Linked DNA regions of Homo sapiens. The protein of the gene in region 1 interacts with the protein of each later gene in a biochemical or structural test. Each region holds a gene or a part of one and is shown on either strand. Other genes may lie near its edges.

Region 1 (3,958 bases):
TGACTCCAGAAGTGCAGCCAGGTTGTAGGGGACATTGCAGCAGCTATGGGAAGTTATGCCGCAATGGAGGGAAATGCAGAGAAAGACCCATTGGGTTCTTTTGTGACTGCACTTTCTCTGCATACACAGGGCCATTCTGCTCAAATGGTAAGTGTGGCATGGAAGACTGTAAGAGGAAAATTTATTCAATGTGGATTAAATGTCTGGCAGTTCTTTTCTATGCAGCTATTTGAAACAAAAAAAATTCAATTTCTGAATTGCTTTGGCAAAGTATCTGTTGAATGTAAAGAATGAGTACAAGATCCTGGTGATGAGACAGCATCATATATTCAAAGATGGAGCGCATCATATTTCATTACTTAAATATTTGACTCATTTATGAAAAACTAGTGTTTGTTGATGGTAAATCCATTAATAGTCACCTTTATGTATTATAAAGTGTTAGTTGCTCAATCTGCTTTTTTCTACCTAGTGTTGATGCTCTTAAATAATATGGCTGTCAGCAACCTGCCCCATGGGGCAATTCTTTATTTTAAAATCATTTAAAGCATTACTTTTTTTTTTATTTGAGACTGAGTCTTACTCTGTCACTCTGTCACCCAGGCTGGAGTGCAGTGGCGCAATCTCGGCTCACTGCAACCTCCACCTCCCAGGTTCAAGCGATTCTCCTGCCTCCGCCTCCCGAGTAGCTGGGCTTACAGGAGCCCACCACTATGCCCAGCTAATTGTTGTATTTTTAGTAGAGATAGTGTTTCACCATGTTGCCCAGGCTGGTCTCAAGTTCCCGACCTCAAGTAATCCACCCACCTGAGCCTCCCAAAGTGCTGGGATTACAGACGTGAGTCCCCATGCCCGGCCCTGTTACTATTGTATTTGTTGAAGATATTCAACAATGCAAGGATATTTAAGATGCATTGTTTTTTATTTGAGTTTTTCAGACATAGTTTTTCCAGAAATATAAACAATATACCATTAAATATCGATGCATTACAAAAATAGACACATTTATACATTAATCATACATTTTATTGTATGATATGTTGAATATCTGCTGGTGAAATAAAATAGTAGAATACTTTTCAGCTTCTCTCATTATCTGATATGCCTCATGGAAGAAGAAAAGAACAGTTGTAGGATTAAGTGTTCTGGACAGACTTCCATGAATATACAAACATTTATTACTCTTTCATAGTTCCTCATAGAAGACTGACATCCAATTTAAATTCATTTACTTTATTTAAAGTGTCTCTTGGCTATTGAACCTTTTCCTGAAGGAGGCTAACAAAACTTGGCTCCAGATTAAAACAACTCCTGACTTACAAAGAAAGCATGGGATGAGTTAATAAAAAGATGGCCAAATGCTCTTTTCAAGTCATCTGCTTTTCTCAGGAATAATCTATAATTTACAAATCAACTTGTGATCATAATCATATACTGCTGGTACCATTCTAGGACACTTTTCATGTTTAAAGTGATCATTAAGACCACTTCATTAAAATAACATGTCTTTGTTTTCTGGATATAAATAATTTCCAGTTCATCTTGCTAAGTGCAACCGTAAATGTTACTCTGTATGCACATATTATATTGAATATAAAATGCGTGTTATAGATAATAAAATAATGAAACAATTAAAAACTCTAAGATGTCAAGGGAGCCTAAACATTACTGTATGATCCAGTAAGTATCATCTACAACTTGTATTCAATAACCAGTCCTTTTTCAGTAATGGAGAGAAGCAGATTCAGGGATTTAAAACTAGTTATTTCTTCTGCCATCTTCTTCATTTTCATACATATGTATTTGGTGTGTGTGTGTGAGAGAGAGAGAGAGGAAGACAGAGAGAATTTGGGATATTAATCTCATACCAGGAAAATACTACACTTTTGTAAAATGATTTAAAAGAGGTTGGTTAGTTCTGTTTGTTGATCCTGTTTCCCTGTATCATGTTAATACTAGACTTAGCTTTCTTTTTATAGTACACAATAACTATGAGAAAATGTTTAGACATAAAGGAAAATTTCTGCCTCTTGATCCTGGGAAAGAAGAGAGTCTCTCAAACATCCTTCCTTCCTAACTATTTTGTAGATAGGAGGCCCTAGACTTCCTTTAAGATACACTTCATTTAAGATTGTACTATCTGCAATATAACAGATGGGAGTTAAAATTTAAATAAAAAAGTAGATGATCAAGGAGATAGAAGACAAGCCTGGTTTGTGTTTGAACTCAGATAAGAAAGCATTTAACTTTCAACTGTAAAATTATACTAGTGCATTAATTATATGTCATTTTAACAGAAAGCCATTTCAAAGATCATTTTGAAAGCTCTATTAACTTACTTTATTATTTGATTCTATTTTGGGGTTGGTTCTTCTATCTATGCAATTCATTAAAGAAACTAAAATATAATTATTGTAACTAAAACAAAATCCTTGTACTTAAAATTTTTAACAAAAATATATATATATATTATTTCAGAGATTTCTGCATATTTTGGATCTGGCTCATCCGTGATATACAATTTTCAAGAAAATTATCTTTTAAGTAAAAACTCCAGCTCCCACGCTGCTTCATTTCATGGTGATATGAAGCTGAGCAGAGAAATGATCAAATTTAGTTTCCGAACAACACGAACACCAAGCTTGCTGCTTTTTGTGAGCTCCTTTTACAAAGAATACCTTTCTGTGATCATTGCCAAAAATGGTGAGTTCTTTTTAGATGAGAGAGAGAAAATTAAATTAGAACACTAGCTCTGTAATAATATGGATCATTCTCGTGTTCTGGCTTCTCAAGCTACAAACAGAAAAATGGAGTGTGCCTGTTTTTTGTAGTCATATTTTTAGTACTATCCTATAAGTATAATCTAAAAGGATTATTTAAAATGATTAAGATGCCCTTATCTCTTTATGATTTTGATAATTTTACATATTCAATGTATAATTTTATTTATATAAAACATTTATTATATTATTGTTAGAAGCTCCTTGACTATTCCATATGGCTATCAATATTTGTTTCATAGTTCATTTTGAAATAAGGTGTCTTGTTGTATGTAACTATTTCCTGCAAATCAAAGTAAAGAAACATTAAGGGAGTGTTAATAAACCAGCATTTTGAGTAAGAATATGTCCACAAGATGACCTTTTAGTTGTACTTTTAGTTAAAAAAATCATCATGGGAAAAAAATGTTATATCCATGCAGTGTTAAGGGAATGTAGATTAGGAAATGTGTTTCCTACAGAAAACCATTTACTGCTATTTTTCTCTTTCCCACATCTAGATTAAAGGTAAAAATTTTGGAAATAACTTCTCTGGATAAGAAAAGCAAACATACAAACATGTGACTATATCATTTCAACTGATTCAAATATATCCCAAGGGTACTGTACTGAACACCAAAATAAAAATAAGATTGTTCGATAAGTGTATTTATTCTTACTGTGCATTTTGAGCTTGAAGCTTATTTATATATTAGGGCATTTTCTTTGTCAAATTGAAAGATATCCTGTGAAATAAATTAACTGACATCTCTGCAGGCAATTAAATGAGTAGTACTAATTGTGATGGTAAATTTGGCTTAAAATCATTCATCTTACCATTATTTCATTTCAAAGTCTATGACCATGACTACTTGGACATATTTCTTCTCTTTAGTAAAACTACATTTGTGTTTAATAATTTCATTAATTGTTGTATTTCCAGAGTGTGAGATATATTTTTTAAATATAGGAACAGAATATTATTGCAATATTAAGCAATAGGTTGGCATTTCAGAAATACTTAATATTATTTTTTAAGTGAGAGGCAAGTGCAGAGATTTGCATATGCTTAATCTGAGTTGATGTTAAATTAAAAGATTTGCAGGAAAGAGAGTGCTTGTGTGCAACATACTTGGTCATGATTTTGCAAATACATTATTGCAATTTCACTTGGAAACTGACTCTTGGGGATTATAAAA
Region 2 (2,990 bases), on another chromosome or scaffold:
ATAAGGATCAATTGTAATATTCATTCAAAAGGTTTTTAAAAGTAAGTTTTAAGGAGTATTTCTCGACAGATGATTTTCTTCTCCATTAATACCCATGCTTTGTTTTTCACATATAAATAGATGATTTCAATAGCTTTGTAGTTTTTTTTCAAAATCTTAATGTAAACTAGGATTGGAGTATGATTTACCTCATAGTATCTTCACTGTGTTATCCTAGTTTGAACAGGATATGTTCAGGAAATGAAAGGTGAATTATGCCCCTTATTGGTCTAGAAGCATTGGTTTTTTTTTGATCCTCTGAGTAAGGGAAGGAAGATTCCTGTGGCATGTTGATTTCTATGGCCAACTTTCTCTCTTTGTAAAACAAAGATTGATTGATTTTCTTGTATGCTTCTTTATACATGCTCTTAAAACTTGTGGTTGAAATCTGTGCTGTGTGTGTGTGTCTCTGCATGTGTAAAAGAAGGGTAAAAAAGAGATGGGTAGGGTAGAACTACTTGCATTTGATTTTTTTTTCAGTCCTTAAAACATTATTTCTTTTTTTCACTCATAGCCACTTTTATGTTACCTTTTATAAGCACTCCAGGGAAGATTTTATATTTTTTTGTAGAGTTTTTGGAAAGATATTTACTCAAAATAACTATGCTTTAGAACTTTTTTTTTTTTTTTTTTTTTGGTTAAACAGCAGCACTTTTTAGTTCCCTAAACTTTAGAAGAAATGCTATCAGAAATAGATTTCCTTCCAGTGGAAAGAAAGGAGGAAGGGAGAATTGAGAAAATATATTAGTCTATTATTTTAGAGTTCTAATACACTCTAAATTAAAGAGAAAATTGAGAGTAAATGACTGTCTTATCACTCTTATTTGACATTTCGTAGGTGTAAGAGAAATGGAAATGAATGGTTTCAACAAAGATCATTTAATACAGCAGAGCATGGCATGACCAAGCATCTTTGTAAAGTGTTAGATGGAAAATGCTGTGTGCTGCCATGGTAATCAGAAATAATAACCTGTTAGGGATGTATTCTAGGAAATCAGAAGTAGTTCTCTTTTCTTGCTGGATTATTGCTTAGATAACTCTTGTTTTCTGGTAAAACTTTAGTTGTATTGCCATCCACTCCTTTTTCAAATGAGTTTAATGCCATAAAGCTGATATTCTTTGTCCGATTAATTTGAAATCTGCACAGAAGCTGTTTTAGTCATTAATGTGTAACAAAAGTAGCTTATAGAATATGGACTGCCTTATTGCTGTTGCTTATCATTTGAAAATAAAATCCAGCTCAGGTTGTAACTTGTTGGTACTCGTTTAGTGAGTTCGTTTTGGAGGTTCTGAAATACCTATTAATTCTTAATATTACCTCTCTTGGAAAGACACAAAAAAAGAGCTGTTATTTTTAGGCATAAGATGACTTAGGAGGCCCATAGAAACATTCTCGTTTAAACAACAACAACAAAATAAATTTATCAGCACTAGATATTAGATTTGAAATAAGTCATTGTTCATTATTGATGGTTGTCAGTTTCTCCTTCCTTTTTGGGCATGCATAAAGACACACTTGGTGCTGATTCCATGTGATTTATGGAATGTCATTTTCACAATGATCTTTCTAGAATTTGTGTGTAAGGTTGTGATATCCATGTACAGCTGTAACTATATATACTTGTCTGTTAGCATTCAGTGGACCATTATCATTACTATCATCACATTACCTGGGCTTCAACTGGGCCCAAGTACTCTATATACTGCCTGTAATAGGTTTTTCCTTGAAATATCCTTATCTTTCACCTCTACAGCTAAACTGATAACAAGGTCAGTTTCTTTATGTCATTTTATTCCCATACCTAAAATTGCATCTATTTGTGAGCTTTCTGCCTTTTTGTAACGCTCAGTGCACCAAAAGCGTCTGTTTTTAGTGCAGTCACATAATATATAAGTGTGGGATACCCTTCTGCAGCTTCAGTGAGACAAATCACTTTTTAAAAAACATTCCATTTTATTGGCATCACTAGATGTTTTTAGGACCCTGTCCTTTTCACTTTTCTGTAGGCTTTTTTTTTTTAAATGGAAGATGATTATTTTGTTTGTTCTTGATTTCCTGTTATTGAAAACAGCATCTTCCTTCTTGCAATGGCCACTAATAGCACACAATGCGTTTTCTTTGATTGTAGCAGAAAATGCAAATGATAATTGTATGTTGGGCTCGATGAGGCCTTGAACATAGCTGAGTCCTAATCAGATGTATATACTCTGATGATTACAAATAGGTACATGTTGGGTTTCTGTGATGTTTCAAAAATACAATTATATAATTATGATGTAAACTCTTTAAGAATTCAATTATAAAAGCAATAATCAGGTAACCTCTATTTGGAGCTGCTACATCCAATATTGTGACTGAAAATTAACTAAAGAGAGATAATTTTTCAAATGATGTATAATTTGCAATATTTTCCCTTGCAACTTTAGCAAATACACATATTCCAAGTAAAACTTTATTTAGTCCCATGTTATTTATTTGTTTATTATTGACAGGGTCTCACTCTGTTGCCCAAGTGGGAGTGCAGGGGTACACATATTCCAAGTAAAACTTTATTTAGTCCCATGTTATTTATTTGTTTATTATTGACAGGGTCTCACTCTGTTGCCCAAGTGGGAGTGCAGGGGTTTGATCATGGCTCACTGCAGCCTTGACCTACCCAGGCTCATGTGATCCTCCCACCTCAGCCTCTCAAGAGCTGGGACTATAGATGTGCACCACCATGTCCAGCTAATTTTTGTACTTTTGTAGAGATGGGGTTTTGCCATGTTGCCCAGGCTGGTTTCAAACTCTTGGGCTCAAGAAGTCTTCCCGCCTTGGCCTCCCAAAGGGATTACAAGCACGAGCCACTGCACCAGGCCAGTCCCATGTTATTTATTGCTAGACCTTTATCACTTCTAGAGACTCCCTGGTCTCCTTCAATTATTGCCTGTCTAACGTAGTAGCAAAATGG

Evidence for each region.
Region 2: the proteins of CNTNAP4 (region 1) and GIPC2 interact in a test that uses a peptide from one of them, tested with the Homo sapiens proteins (one large-scale study listed by IntAct).

What each region holds. Positions count from the first base shown.
Region 1 is NC_000016.10:76,535,638-76,539,595, forward strand, and holds part of CNTNAP4 (contactin-associated protein-like 4 isoform 1 precursor), read left to right. Parts: coding exon 1-147; intron 148-2,478; coding exon 2,479-2,703; intron 2,704-3,958. UniProt on the Homo sapiens protein: Presynaptic protein involved in both dopaminergic synaptic transmission and GABAergic system, thereby participating in the structural maturation of inhibitory interneuron synapses.
Region 2 is NC_000001.11:78,135,955-78,138,944, forward strand, and holds the end of GIPC2 (PDZ domain-containing protein GIPC2), read left to right. Parts: 3' UTR 1-2,490; downstream 2,491-2,990.